Linked DNA regions of Homo sapiens: all the other regions are linked to region 1. Evidence: fine-mapped expression QTL. A gene starts in region 1. Each other region holds a variant in brackets. All regions are shown on one strand. Distances are between the middles of the regions.

What was found.
Region 2: its variant is fine-mapped to the expression of ASB8 in Th2 cells (Schmiedel 2018, PIP 0.95).
Region 3: its variant is fine-mapped to the expression of ASB8 in whole blood (INTERVAL, PIP 0.94).

The regions. Positions count from the first base shown.
Region 1 is chr12:48,155,104-48,160,327 of GRCh38, forward strand. ASB8 (ankyrin repeat and SOCS box containing 8) reads right to left here and starts at 2,412. Exons shown (of 4, transcript NM_024095.5): 1 at 2,356-2,412. It also overlaps the pseudogene LOC100421855. RefSeq lists enhancers at 2,196-2,718, 2,223-2,272, 2,293-2,342, 2,373-2,592.
Region 2 is chr12:47,830,705-47,835,928 of GRCh38, forward strand. It overlaps LINC02354 (long intergenic non-protein coding RNA 2354), which reads left to right. Exons shown (of 3, transcript XR_007063292.1): 2 at 3,535-3,947. Among named protein-coding and RNA genes, the nearest start is that of LINC02354, 4.2 kb to the left of the region's middle. RefSeq lists an enhancer at 1,328-1,377. The variant G/C (reference allele first, on the strand shown) is at 2,641.
Region 3 is chr12:48,015,692-48,020,915 of GRCh38, forward strand. It overlaps LOC105369750 (a long non-coding RNA gene), which reads left to right. Exons shown (of 4, transcript XR_944904.3): 2 at 1,453-1,590. It overlaps LOC124902927 (a long non-coding RNA gene), which reads right to left. Exons shown (of 2, transcript XR_007063293.1): 2 at 4,080-4,478. Among named protein-coding and RNA genes, the nearest start is that of COL2A1, 14 kb to the left of the region's middle. The variant C/T (reference allele first, on the strand shown) is at 2,936.

The DNA.
Region 1 (5,224 bases):
GTATAAGAGACAAGAGTTAGGGACCATTTAAAATTACAGCCAATAAGGTAGAACACTTCTATGAAACAGTACATATCAAAAACAATAGGGAAAATATAATACACAGTATCAGCTCTCTAGGTGCAACTGCTTAGAAATCTGTGTTCTTATTATAAGCTCTTTGGGAATAACGATACTGATTTTTTCAATAGTACCTGAACACATGGTAGGTTCTTAACATCTGTTGAACCAATGTAAAGTTTATTACTTTAGATCCTAAGAAATTCAAGACTTGAAATAAATAAGCACATTACCCATATGAAATTGTTTTGGTCATTTAATAATATATAATGTTTTGGCGGGGCGCGATGGCTCACGCCTGTAATCCCAGCACTTTGGGAGGCCGAGATGGGCGGATCACTTGAGGTCAGCAGTTCGAGACTAGCCTGGCCAACATGGTGAAACCCCGTCTCTACTGAAAATACAAAAAAATTAGCCAGGCATGGTGGCATGCACCACCCCTGGTAGTCCCAGCCACTTGGGAGGCTGAGGCAGGAGAATCGCTTGAACCTGGGAGGTGGCGGTTGCAGTGAGCTGAGATCGCGCCACTGCACTCCAGCCTAGATGACAGAGTGAGACTCCATCTCAAAAAAAAAAAAAATATATATATATATATGTATATATAGTCTTTTGCTTTATTTTTTTTTTTTTGAGGCGGAGTCTCACTCTGTCATCTAGGCTGGAGTGCAGTGGTGCGATCTCAGCTCACTGCAACCTCAGCCTCCCAGGCTCAAGCAATTCACGTTCCTCAGCCTCCTGAGTAGCTGGGATTTACAGGTGTGCACCATCACGCCCAGCTAATTTTTGTATGTTTAGTAGAGACAGGGTTTCACCATGTTGGCCAAACTGGTCTCAAACTCCTGACCTCAGGTCATCCACCTGCTTTGGCCTCCCAGAGTGCTGGGATTACAGACATGAGCCACCATGCCCGGCCTATTTTTGCTTTTTGTGATTGTGTATCCCTTTATATATTATATACTATAAATTCTGATAGTTTCTATTTTGTGAATCAGTAGCCATTTATAGTAGATGTAAATTCCATTAAAAGAATGCAAGTAAAAATATTCATATGTATCGATAATTCAAATTAGGTATTTTTCTCCCGTTATCATGCACGGATAAGCTGACACACTTGTTTATATGTCTCTATGACATTTTCTAGATAGTTTAGATTTGGCATGTGTTTTAATCTCTCCAGTAGCCACTAAACTGCTCTGAGACAAGTATCTGTATCTTATAATTTTTTTGTTTCAAGGAAAAAAAAAGACAAGTGCATTTGAGTTGGTAATTCCAAGAATGGCAGCAGAAGACAGAGCATCTAAAGCAGGAGGCTTGGACCAAAGTGGTTCTGTTGCCTGTAATCCCAGCACTTTGGGAGGCCAAGGCAGGAGGAACTCTTGAACCTGGAAGTTCAAGACCAGCCTGAGCAACATGGCGAGACGACCCCAAAACCCAATCGTCTCTACAAAAAAATTCAAAAATTAAAATAAATAAATAAAGTCGTTTTGTTAACCATTTCTGGGCCATGATAATCGGATGAAACTAAATCCTGAACTAATTTCCCGGGCGCTCTTGGGCTCTGGGCTAAGAACTCCTGAGAGTATGGTCAGTGGTCTGCTGCTGCCTGGAAGCTCCCGGTAAAGGAATGAAACTTCAGGGCAGACAGCATTCACTTCAGGAATGGTCAAGGAAAGCTAAATTCGATCTCACTAGACAGCAGCCCGTGTAAGGTTTGATCCCCTTGGAAGGCCCTTTCCTCTGCTAGAGCTGAAAGCCCTGTCTCCCTCGTTTTCTTTTGCTACGGGATCCAGAGAAAACACCAAAGGGCACTTACTGAGAAGCTGAAAAAAAAAAAAAAAAAAAGCAAACTGGAAAAGAGAAGACACAACAGCTCTGATGCGAGGGAGGCCTCGGCCCCGCCCCCTCCCGCCCCGGGAGAACCTTGGCCGAGCCTGCAGCGCCCGTAATCCCCACCGCACCTGCTGCGGGAGGGCCCGCGGCAGCTGTCTCGCTGAGGCTAGGGGGCGGGGGGCAAGGGCACGAAACGCAAGGACGTGCGGTGTCACTTTCTGCACGGGCTCTAAACAGATCGCAGCAATCCCGGTAGGTCCGGTACTGAAAGAGAATCACGCAATTTGCGCTGGGGGGCCTCAGACGCGGACCAACCCCCTCTTCGATCTGCCTTCTAAGGCCCGGAAATAAGTCTCAGCCTCGAGAACTAGAGCACTTCGACCAGGGAGTAGAGGAAGCGTTATTGGGCGTGGTACCCTGGGTTAGGAAACCTGGCTGTAGACCCACTCCAAGGACCGCACTCACCGAATTGCTGGGCTGAGGTGGGGGTTGAAAGCCGCTGTCAAGGCGTGACCCGGAAGCAGAAGCTGTCGGGGGCAGGCCCTCTGTTTACCGGACTAGAAGACCAACTAAGATGGGCGCCTGCGCACTGATGAGTGTTCGTCAGCGGGGCGCGCCTGCGCAGACTTGTGCAGCAGCTTTCGCCCTCCAGAGGCCTAGTTAGGGGGTTACTTTCTCCTTTTACTCAGAGGCTTTGCGCGCAGGCTCAGTGCAGCGTTCTCGGCCACAGCCGCAGGGTTCGGGTCTTGGTCCTGCAGCGGGGATAAAAAAGCTCAGGAACCCTGAGTGTTGGGCCGATTCTATATGGTTGCACCTGCGTGGACCAGGCCAGCAGGGGTCCATCCACAATGGTTCAGTTGCTTAGGAGACTAAACTCTTAGTAGGAAGTGTCTTTGACAAAAATACTTACAGCATTATTCATAATGGTGGAACGAATCTATGCTCCTTAGAACCCTCCTGTACATGTCCACCCTCCTTCAAGTAAACCATATCAAAGACAAACTCAACCACCCAAGAGGTGTAGTATTCTAAATGTAGAGGAATAAATGACCTTTATAACTCTTATTAGGGTTAATGAAACTTCCCGCACAAAAACATGATGACACCTCTGAGTGACAGACTTTCTGTGCAAAGCATAAACATTTTGAAGTCAGCAGCACATGGTGGTGGTGCATGGAAGGAGTGAAGCAGCAGCCCATTTAGGCAGACTGCAAGAGTTGTGGTCTGCCCGGTAGCCTGTTTAACCAGAGTGCCCCACACCTACTCCCCAGAGCTTGTTCTAAGCAACCAAATCTAACCAATTAGAGATTTAAAGCAGGCCCAGACAGATCATGTACATCAGTAAGAGGATGGTAAACTGAAAGTTCATGACCTGGTCTGAGGAGTGGGCCTCCTTTGAGCTCCAGACTCAAAGGAATTTTGCCAGGTAGGAATATGCCCTCCACTTCCTGCCACTGCACCATGGTGAGATCGTCCATTTTTCAAAAGAAGCTGAAATACAGATTTTTTTTAAAAAGTGAATTTTTCCAAGTTGCAAATGTTGGCAATGTTTTTATTATTATTATTATTATTATTATTATTATCATCATCATTATTTATTTTTGAGATGTAGTTTCGCTCTTCTCACCCAGGCTGGAGTGCAATGGCGTGATCTCGGCTGGCTGCAACCTCAGCCTTCCGGGTTCAAGTGATTCTCCTGCCTCAGCCTCCTGAGTAACTGAGACTACAGTCACCTGCCACCACACCTGGCTAATTTTTTTTTTGTATTTTTATTAGAGATGGGGTTTCACCATGTTGGCCAGGCTGGTCTCAAACTCCTGACCTCAGGTGATCCACCCTCCTCGGCCTCCCAAAGTGCTGGGATTACAGGCATGAGTCACCACACTGGACCACATCTCTCAAATTTCTTGGTTGGGAAATGCTGAAGTATATAAATTCTGGGAAACCATCAGCATCTTACAAATGTAAGAATGAGCGGAGTCTCCCAGGGAGTGATAAAATAGGCTCTCAATACAGGTTATTTTACTTATTTATTGAAAAACTGAGTACACTTTTATTTTACTTGGCCTGCAACTCAGTATATGCAGAAAACTACTCTATGTCACACTCATGATCAATATCTTCTTATTTCCATTTGGCATGTCATTGAAAACCTAGCCCATCACTTAGCTAAAAATCACATAAGAGACCCCTAGAGAAATCAAACTAACTTTTTTTCCCCCCAAACAATAGATCTCATCTTTATTAGTCAAATCAGTACCTGCTGATAGGGCAGTGGAGCAAGCCTGACAGTGATATTCATTAACAAAGAAGACAAAACTTATGCTTTCAAGTACAAAGATAAACTTTGAATGGCAGAGAGCCTAATCTGACTATCATCAGCCACCAAGAACACAGAAGAGCAAATAACTCAAGAAGAGAGAAGCCAAAGTGCTATAAAAATTATTCTTTTCTGTGAAATTCAGTTCCACAGCCTGTATGAGCAAGGGTCCAAAACACTGGAGAGCCAATAAAGCTGCTGGGAGGGCCCATTCATAATGGGAGATGCACTGGCTGTGCCTCCCTTGCTGTGTCCTTCCATGAGCGTCCTCCACTCTTCACTGACTTCATTTAGACTTGGTCCTCTGGTCTCACCACAGCTACCTGGGAGACTTTGAGTTGTAATCTTACAGTTTCAAGAGTCTATTTTGACTGAACCCAGGAGTAACATGCCAATCCAAAATAGAAACATTCTCATGGTACAATGGTGCAAAGGTCATTCTGTAGGTTGCATATATATAACATATATATATACACACAATATATATATTACATATGTACTATATATTACAGATATACTATATATATTACATATATATACACAATATATATATTTCTATGGAAGACAAAGCTTCCTTTTTTTTTTTTTTTTGAGATGAAGTCTCACTCTGTCACCCAGGCTGGAGTGCAGTGGCACGATCTCAGCTCACTGCAACCTCCACCCACCTCCCGGGTTCAAGCAATTCTCCTGCCTTGGCCTCCTGAGTAGCTGGGGTTACAGGCGGGCACCATCACACCTGGCTAATTTTTGTATTTTTAGTAGAGACAGGGTATCACCATGATGGCCAGGCTGGTGTCGAACTCCTGACCTCAGGTGTTCCACCCACTTCGGTCTCCAAAAGTGTTGGGATTACAGGCGTGAGCCACCGCGCCTGGCTGCTTCCTTCCTCTTTAACAAGAGAATATTGCACCCAGCATCACTGCTTTGGCTAGCTCTTTTTTCCTGTGTGCCCTCATGTGTGCAGCAATTGAACTGGCTAACAATTTCTGCATTCTTCCTGGTCTGGCCAAAATA
Region 2 (5,224 bases), 320 kb before region 1:
TCAGTGAGAGAGGAAATTGTAGGAATGAATGACACCACAAGAGCAGGGGAGAAGAGAGGAGAGAAGGGGAGGGCAGGGAAGATGGCTAAATACAGAAACCTGAGAAAACAAAGACTTCAGATGGGCGAGGAGTGGAAGCTGGAGCAGGCCGGGAGCAGTCACAGATTTCAATGAAGCAAGAGGAAGTGCATCGGAATCCCAAGTGGGAGAGAATATCAAGAAGGAGAGACTCGCACACGGTTGCAGTTGACAATGCTTTAAAATCATTTTTTTGTTGTTGTTTGTTTTTGTTTGAGATGAAGTCTTGCTCTGTGGCCCAGGCTGGAGTGCAATGGCATGATCAGGGCTCACTGCAACCTCCGACTCCCAGGTTCAAGTGATTCTCCTGCCTCAGCCTCCCGAGTAGCTGGGACTACAGGCACCCGCCACCAAGCCCGGCTAATTTCTATATTTTTAGTAGAGACAGGGTTTCACCATGTTGGCCAGGCTGGTCTGACCTCAGGCAATCTGCCTGCCTCGGCCTCCCAAAGTGCTGGGATTACAGGTATGAGCCACCGCACCCGGCCCTAAAATCATTCTTATAAAGAGAGCTCACACAAACTGTTAAGAAGCACTAGAACAGTGGAGACTAAAGTTCAAAGCCCAGAAACAGACTCTCCTGGTACAGAGGAAACACAACTCACAAGCAGAGGTAGGGGTATGTTCAACCTGATCGTCCTCAAAGTAATGCCAATTAAAATGAGACAAAGGTAGGTGCCTTTTTGAAACATTAGCGAGAGCTCGGTGAAGTGTGTGTGCTGTCGGTAATGGCGTAACCTCTTTTGAAATCAGTTTGGCAATATATAGTAAGAGCTATAATGTGCTGTTACCCTTTGGCTCAATAACCCCACCCAGTGTATCCTAAACTAGATTTCTATAGTCAAAATTGGGGGAGGAGGAGCGGAGTATGTGCCTAATGATGTCCCCCATCACACTGCCTATAATATAGAAAATTAGAGACAATTTGAACACTTATGATTGGAAAATTGTGGAGGTAAATTATGATACTATATTTCCACTTAATAGAAAACTATGAAGCTGTTAGGAAGATGTTTATATGCAACACAGCATCACAAGAGAATAGAGATTGGTACATACCCCATGATTGCAACTGTATTAAAAAACATATAGGCATGGAGGAGAAGGTGAAGAGGAAATATGTGTCATAGGTAATGATTATGTAGGGTGGAATGGGTATATATGGTTTTGGTCTCATTTAATGAGTCTTAACATTGCGGAGAGCGGGAATGAGGGTTGACCAGAAGCTGAGATTTGGGTCTCAGCTATAGCAAGGGCCCTGACAACCTTCCAGAGGCCACAAATGCATTTATCTGGCAACTTAATAGACTGAGCTCCGACCGCAAGGCAGGTGCGGTCACTGTGGGTATCAACTCAGCATTCTCCTGATAGGAAAAAGCCCACCGTGAGGGGTGATGGCCAGGTGCTCACTGCAGATTCCCTCCCATATATGGGAGGCTCCTGGAGCTCCATAGTCTCCTCTACTACTGCTGAGGAGCAGGCCATGGCAGGCGCCTGTGGGGACAGCCCCCAGAGGACAGGGCTGACTGCAGGAGGAACAGAGCATCACAGTGAGGTGAGCTCAGCGGGTATGAGGGCCTCTCTGCTTTGGGGTGGGGGTTGGCGGGCTGTGGTCGGCCACCTGCTGTTTCACATCACCCCCTGAAGGTGACATGAGATGCAGGGGCCATCACCTTCACGGCGCCCCCAGGAACTCTACCCGGGCCCCCACCTACAGGCGCCATTAGGCCTCCTGCTCCTCCCCGTTCCACTCTCTTCCCACAACAACACACTGGGGCCTTGAAATAACACATCTTTCTTTACGCCATCATTTCCACAGAATTTGCCTATGATTCATTTGTTGTCAAGAGGTATTAAAACCTCCAGCTCCCAGGCACCCTGGTCTTTGTTCCCCTCCCTCCTAGGTCCCACCACTCCCCTTCCCACGGTGTCCTGCCCAGCTCTTACCCAGTCTCCCTGAGCCCCAGCATCCCAAACTCAGCGCCGCTGCCCCCACAACCACCCCCCAACCTCCTCCCCACTTGGCCTCTTGAGGAACAGTGGGAAGGGGCTGGGGCAGGTCCACATGGCACCCACCCACCTCCCCAGCCCAGCTCCACCAGAGGAGGGCCCTGCTGGGGGCCTCTAGCCTTAGGACTTGGAGATGAAGCCCTGGAAACTCTTTGCCTAAAAACAGGAGGCAGTGGAACCCTCAGCCCCAGAAGCTGCCCCTTTCTGTGACTCCCCAACCCCCTCACTTGGGCAGGATGGATTTTCCTCATACCTCGAGGCCTGGTCCCTGGGTCCCTCCCCGTCACTGTTTCTGACTAGGCACAGGGGTATAGAGTTTCCACCGTGTGTGTGTGTGTGTGTGTGTGTGTGTGTGCGCGCGCGCGCGTGCGCGCGCACGCGTGTATGTTGGGGAGTAGGAAGAGCTGTCTTCTCACACCCTCATTACCCAGTAAGGCTTTGGGGTTCCCCTCCCAGTCCCTCCCCAGGGCTGTGTAGGTGTGTCAGGGAGCTAGAAGGTGGGGGTGGCAGGAGAGGAAGAGGGCGATGGGCGAGGGAGCTGGGGGGCTGCTG[G/C]GAGCCTGGCTGGGGTGACAGGAGCTGCTGTGGTCGGGTTATCTGATGTGAGGAGACAGGTGTGCAGCTTCGAGGCTCTGGGGGTGGGGGAAGAGCAGCCTGAGAGAGAAGTAGAAACAGTAGAAGCAGCCTGGAGCCAGCGAGGTAGACAGGAAAGACAGAGATGGGAGAAAAGAGCCTTAGTGAACCCAGGAAGGCCTCTCCCCAGAGGAGGATCACTTTTTTCCTCAAGTTCTGGAGGCAACACCAGAGCAGGCAGGCAGGTGGGCAGGGGGGTGTCCCCAGCCTCTGCCGTGGTCCAACTTCCCCAGCTCGCCAGCTCCCAGGGAACCAGGCAGCCTCCCCTCAACACTGTGGGGCTGATGGGCTCGAAGGTCCAGCCTTATCCCTGAATCAGAGCAGTTGGAGACAGTTGAGGCTCTATAATCTCGGTTGGGGGTTAACGGGTGGAGGAGGCTTTGCAGGAGGAGATAATGGGGCAGACCTCAGGTCTTCCGCACTACCCACCAGCACAACACCGTGGAGCTGGGGGAGTAAGCGGAGTTGTTGGCACCATGGGCCGGGCCAGGCGTGCGTCTGCCATCCTAGGAGCTGGGTTGAGGGCCAGCTTGGCCTTTCACAAGAGGGGTCCACCTGTGAATCCCTGCTTCTACCCCGTCTATCCCTGACTTGGAATGTGTTGGAGGAGCTGCTTATAAGGAAGACGATATCAGGTTAGACGTTATCTCTTTAGAGGAGAGGGTCCCCAGAGGATGATGAAAATTACAGTAATAAAGGCTAACATTTACCGAGCACCGAACTCCATGCCAAGCGCAATTCTAAATACTACATAGTAGCTCATGTGGTCTTCACAACACCTAGGAAGTAAGTACCATTACTCTCTTTGCTTTACAGAAGACAGACAAATAGCCAGCAGTTCCACAGCGACTCAGGGGACTGCCAGGGTTCAAATCCTGCTCCTGCTAGATGCCACTTCTGCTGCTCTTCATTGCTGCCCTAGACAAGGCCAGGCCCTGCGGCGTGCTGCGAGCCTTCCTTCCGTTATCTTTACCAGCTCTACATGGTCATTCACAGATGAGAAAGCTGAAGATCAGAGAGCTCACACATTTCCCACAAGGTTACACAGTCAGTAAGAGACACTATCAGGATTCCAATGACCTGCTGTTAAAGTTCATCTCTTATTCACTCATTGCCTCCCTCAAGGCTGAAGAGTGGGGTGGAGGGGAGACCAGCAGAGCTACTGAGCTCAATCTGCCTCCTTGGCCCTCCCAGCCCAGAGCTCTGCCAGCGGTGGTAGGAGGAGTGTGGTAAGTATTTGCTGATGAATGAACAACCGAAGGACAAAATAATGAACTGTCATCTTCCAAGGCAAAGGATTGCAGAAGCCACTGATATCCTGCCCACCGCCCTCCCCATCCACTCCTCTACCACCTCCAGTCCTTCCTGTGAACACAGCAGAGGCAGGAGCCTCTTGGGGTGGGGTCCCTATCAGGGAGGAAGTGCAGCTGGCTTCTCCCCCACCCCCTTTATCACTTCTCCCCCATCCCTACTTTATCACCCAGGGCCTCCACAATCCCCTCCCTGTCCCTCTCCGGGGGCTCCTGGGTAGGAGAGGGAAAGACATGTAAATCAGTGGGGCTAGGGGAAGTGGAGGAAGCAGAAAGGATACCAGGAGCATTTCCCCTACACGCTTAACCTGGGGCTCACAGTCCTTGCCAGGCTGGGCCAGTGGCTTAGGGGACCAAGCCCTTCCTGATAGGCCGCTTGATCTATCTGGCCAGCCTAGTAGGCAAATGGGGAAATAGTAGTCAGGAGTTGACAAAGTTGGGGCACCTGCCCTCACTTTGGCCCTAGCCCCATGCCGGCTGCCACAGATGTTCACAGGTGTCTGCAGGATTCTTTTGTTTTTGTTGTTTTTTGACATAGGCTCTCGCTCTATTGCCCAGGCTAGAGTGCAGTGGTGCGATCATGGCTCATTGCAGACTCAACCTCCGGAGCTCAGGCAGTCCTCCCACCTTGGCCCCCCAGGTAGCTAGGACTACAGGCACATGCCACCAGGCCCAGCTAATTTATTTTTAAAATTTGTTTGTAGAGATGCCGCCTCTCTATGTTGCCCAGGCTGGTCTTGAAATCCTGGCCTCAAGTAATCCTCCCTCCCCGGCCTCCCAAAGTGTTGGGATTACAGGCATGAGCCACCATGTCCAGCCAGGATTTGGGATTGGGTCAGGGTGGCATGGGCCTTTCCAGAGGCCCAGTAGGCTTCTGAGTGCAAGTGAAGAGTGCAGCGGGGAGGCCCTACGGAGCTAAATAAGGGCTGTCGACCAGGCTATGTGTGACTTCTCCTTTCACCACCAAGGTCTGGAGGTCTAAGGGGAGCTCTGCCCACTACCCCCAGGAGCTCACGGGAGCTTCTTCCTGCCTTCCTCCTCTCAGCAACCAGTATCTAGGAGGCCATGCCTTCCTTCCCAGAGTCCAGCTCAGACAATTTGCAGAACAACCCAGCTTGAAATTTGATACTTGATCCACCCCTTGTGCATCCCCTAGATCAAATAACCCTGGATCTGTGACCCTTGGCTCAGATCTG
Region 3 (5,224 bases), 140 kb before region 1:
GGGTCTGCAGACCAGCAGCATCTCATCACCTGGGAGCTTGTTAGAAGTACAGTAGTTCGGCCGGGCGCAGTGGCTCATGCCTGTAATCCCAGCACTTTGGGAGGCTGAGGTGGGCAGACGACCAGGTCAGGAGTTCGAGACCAGCCTGACCAACATGGTGAAACCCTGTCTCTACTAAAAACACAAAAATTAACTGGGTGTGGTGGCATGCACCTATAATCCCAGCTACTCAGGAGGCTGAGGCAGGAGAATCACTTGAACCCGGGAGGCGGAGGTTGCAGCAGTGAGCCGAGATTGCGCCACTGCACTCCAGCTTGGGTGACAGTGCGAGACTCCGTCTAAAAAAAAAAAAAAGAAGTACAGAAGTTCAGGTCCCACCCCAGACCTGCTGAATCAGAATCTTCATTTAATAAGATCCTGAGGTCATTTGTTTACATGTTAAGGTTTCAGCACTGGTCTGGGTGGGGCAGTAGTTCCCAGTCCTGACTGCATATTGGGATCACTTGGGGAGCTTTTGAAGATCCCAATGTTGTGACTGCACCCCAGAACAATTAAATCAGAATTTTTTTTGGTGGGGGGACCCTGGTCAGTGTTTTTTAAGCCCCCCATGTGATTCCAATCTGTGCCTAAGGTTGAGAACCGCTGCTCTCAAGCTATGCAGCCAGCCAAGGGCACACTCAGATGGTAAGTCCATGTGAGGGCCAACAACTCACTTCTTAGCCTCTAAATTCGCTTGTTGGACCCAGCTAACTGGGAAGCCAAAGGGACTTATTCATCCTCAGCAAGTGTAAGAATTGGCTGGGGCTTATGTTTGTTTCCAACATCTAAGTGAGATGTTCATCAGGTTTTCACAAAACGTGTCTAAATACCACACCACTGAAGGGTACAGAAGCAGCCTGCATGACTGAAGGCTGGGAAGAGTTGATTCACTTCCTCACTCTGGGACCTGGATAACCCTGGCATCCCAGAGCAGTCCCGATGAAGGGAGCCATTCTTCCTGTCCAGGGTGGAGGCCACTGTTTTTTCCAATGTCACTTGTCTTTAGCTGCCCTCCTGCAGCTCGGCAAGAATGCGAGGGGCACTGGGGCCAATGAGAAGAGGTGGGTTTTCCTGAAGAGCGGGATTCTCTCATCCTGTTGATCTGAACAGGACCTCAGAGGCCCCAGCCACTTTCTAGTGATGAATGACATTTGCAGAGATGAAGCTTCATCTCTGAGCTGGTGAGGATTTGGGAAGAGCATTCTGAAACCAGCCTCTCGGGAAATGGGTTGCATGAGCAGCCAGGCCGTCCCAAGGGGTGGAGCTGCAGCCCCCATGTGGAACATGGGTTTGAAGTCTCACTGAGAAATGTTATCCTGGACTTGGGTGATGGGGAGGTGCAAGTCATTCACTCTGGAAATGGGATTCCCTAACTAGATGATTATTAACTAATTTGTCTCAACATGTCCACAGAATGTCCTAAGCTTTGTATTCACAGCTGTTCTCATGCATTCATTCCATGCCGGCCTTAGAGGACTCGGTCAAGACAATGGTGCCCTCAGGAAGGTTACGAGAGAGCAAGCTGTGCTGCTTTGCCCATCTTGGGATGAGGTGAGAGGGCAGCACTGGTTGGGTCCCAGGATACCGGGCAGGGCACCTCTGTTGCTGTCCCTTCCTCCTATGGGGTACCAAGCTTCTCTCAGATATCCTTAGAAAGCTTTGTTAGCCAGCAGGTCGCTGGGCCATAAGCCACATGTGAATGAGGCTCTCCCTGTCCCCTGACTAGGTCTGAGCACAGTTCCAGGGGAGAAAGAGGGAGGAGGCGCGGGAGCATTGTCCCCCTCCTGTCGCTGGTAGGTGAGCTTGTGTCCAGTGGAAACAAAGAGAAAGCTGGCCAAATGTTGTTATCTCCCCCAGCTGCCTGGATTCTATTGCCATCCCTTGTCCCCATGAAGACTCCCTGTCATCTCACCCGCACTATTGTCTGGGCTGTACAATTAGCACTTTGTTAAATGTTCTCTCATTCTTCAGTGGCACTTCATTACTGAGCCATAAAACAACGGGGCCCAGCAGGTTCCTGGGCAGTCAAATGGTCCAACCCTCTTGACTTAGAGATGCGGAAAATGAGGCCTTGGGGACAATGCTGTGTCCAGCCATAATGGAGCCCACAGCAAAAGGAAGAATCAGTAATATTGATCCTATATTTATTTAAATGTCTGGTATTTTGTTCATTATAGATTTTTGCATTAATTTTTATTTTTAAAATGTTACATTAAAATAGTCTGTATCTTGATGACTGAGTATTTTTGGTGCCTCTTAAAGTGTGCACCCTGAGCCTGGCCCTGACAGGGACAATAGGGAGTTGCCCAAGGTGACACTAGTTTTGATCAAGAGGTTAAAAGAGAGCTTGGGTCTTCCAACTTGTCCACTTCCTTCTTCTCTGTCAGCTTCAAGTGCAAAGTCCTGTTTTTCCAAATAAGTAGAGAGCTCCAGCAGGCAGGGTGGTGAACTTGTGGAATAATAACACTTTCACATGGTTATTGCCCAGCCAAAGAAGCAACCATTTGAAAATTCAAGAAATTGCAGATTTATTCCTTAAATAAGGCACTGTTGTTGAAATAGTATCAAAATATTGATACTGCAATGAGATAAGAGACCTAGGAACACATGCCAGAATGTGGACCGTTGGCCCAGCCCAATCCTCTCTCACCTGCACTGCTTCAGAAACCCCTTCCTTTCCTTCCAAACCCAGCTGACATCTTTCCAAAGAGTTTTGTGTTTCTGATCGGGCTTCGCTGCACTTGTGTTTCTCCCACTCATCTGGTTCTCAGGGCATAGAACACAGCCCCAGGTACACAGAGAGTGAACAATCTTCAACAACTGGGCACCAAGGATCCTGCTCCTTTTTCTTTGTAATAGCTGCATGACATGGTCTTCTCCTGTATCGATGTACAAG[C/T]TGCCTATTGATAGACTTTCAGTTGCTTCTTTTTGTTCTCTCTCTCTCTCTTGTTCTCTCTTTTCTTATCTTTTTGGCCCCCTTTTTCTCCAGTGTTCTCCACTGCAGAGTCGTGTAATTCCCTCACAGTTTTCTCAGAGCGAGTACATATTCCCTGCCCAGCATCAGCGTTGCTTGCCATTAATGTCCTGTATCTATAGGGATGACCATGCCCCCTTGGAGGAAAGGCTTGGAACTTACCAACTTATGGAAACTTACGGAAATCATCACTTGGTATTGAGATTTTGCAGGGAACACACTCCTTAAAAATCTCCATGAGTGTGCTGTTAAGAATCCCATAAAGAGGGAGAAAGGTGGGAAGTGAGTGAAGCAAGGCTCAGCCGCCACCACGAACAAAGTGGGGTCCACTTTGCATCTGCTGCAAAGGAAGGAACGGACATTTGGCCTGTCTCCTCTTCCTTTATTGTGTCATGTTCTTTCCTTTACTCTTCTCTTTTTTAAAACAAGAAAATCATAATTTTAATATTATTTTAAAAATAGACAATACATTCACACAATTCAAAATTCCAGTAGTTGGCCAGACACAGTGGCTCATGCTTGTAATCCCGGCACTTTGGGAGGCTGAGGCAGGAGGGTCGCTTGAAGCCAGGAGTTCAAGACAAGCCTGGGTAGCATAGTGCAGACCCCATCTCTACAGAAAATTTTTTTAAATTAGCCAAGCGTGGTGACGCACATCTGTAGTCCCAGCTACTTAGGAGGCTGAGGTGGCAGAATCAATTGAGCCCAGGAGATTGAGGCTGCAGCAAGCTGTGATCACATCCCTGCACTCCAGCCTGGGCAACAAAGTGAGACCCTGTCAAAAACAAAAAAAAAATTCCAAAGGTACAAAAGGTGACGTCTCCTCCGCTTCCACTCATTCCCCTCCCCATAGAGGACCAATATTATTAGTTCTCAGGTCTCCTTCCAGAGAGATTCCAAGCATATGCAAGCAACTGTGTTTAAAAATCATCCCTCACTCCCATCTCAAATGGTAAAAATCACCCCTCTCCTCTCTTGGCACAAATGGTAATATACTCCACACACTGGTCTACACAGGACTTTTTCACTTTCTGTGTCCTGGAAAGATTCCACACCCACACGTTTCTGAAATTCTCACTATTTTAATATTGCTTAATATTCCATTATACAGATATACCATAATTTATTTAAGCAGTCCCCTTCTGATGGACATTCGGGTTATCTCTAGCCTTTTGCTGAGATAATGCTGCAGTAAATATTTGTGTATATGCCATTTTGCACTTGCACATTTATCTGTTGGATAATTTCCTAGAAGCAGAATTGCTGGGTCAAAATTGAAGTGCATTAAAAAAATTTGACAGATAAATTCCCTTTAACACTGCATGCACCATTCCCATCAACAATGTATGCCAAAGCCTATTTCACCAAACCTTTGCCAGCTACCACCGTCATGGTTTGCAGAGGACAAATCTCACCACCATAGCCACTCCTTGTATAGTAATCAGTTCTTTTGGTCCTTGCCAATCTGAAAAGTGAAAAATGCTGTCTCAGGGTGGTTTTAATTTGTATTTTCTTTCTTTCCTTTTTTTTTTTTTTTTGTATTGGTTTTGCTTCATTTTCTGGGAACTGTCGGTTCATATGCTTTGCTTTTCTATTCAACTGTTGTTCTCTTTCTTATTTGATTTACATGAGATCTTTATATAGAACATTACCTCTTGCCTATAATAAGAGTTGCAGGTAATTCTTCATGATTTTTCATTTTGACTTTTTTTTTTTTTTTTTTTTTTTTGACACAGAGTTTCGCTCTTGTTGCCCAGGCTGGAGTGCAGTGGCACAATCTCGGCTCACTGCAACCTCTGCCTCCCGGGATCAAGCGAAATCTCCTGCCTCTGTCTCCCAAGTAGCTGGGACTACAGGCATGCACCACCATGCCCGACTAATTTTTGTATTTTTAGTAGAGATGGGGTTTTACCTTGTTGGCCAGGATTGTCTTGAACTCCTGACCTCAAGTGATCCGCCTGCCTCGGCCTCCCAAAGTGCTGGGATTACAGGCATGAGACACTGTGCCTGGCCTCATTTTGGCTTTTGACTTTGTTTATGATTATTCTTTTTGTTTGCCATGCAAACACTTTTTATTTTTATATGGTCAAATTTATTGTTATTTTATTTTATGGTTTCTGGTTTCATTCATAGATTTTAAATTTTTTTCTCCTGGCTCCTTTAAGTTCTTTTAGGGTTAAATTTTTACATTTAAATTTTTGATCCACATAC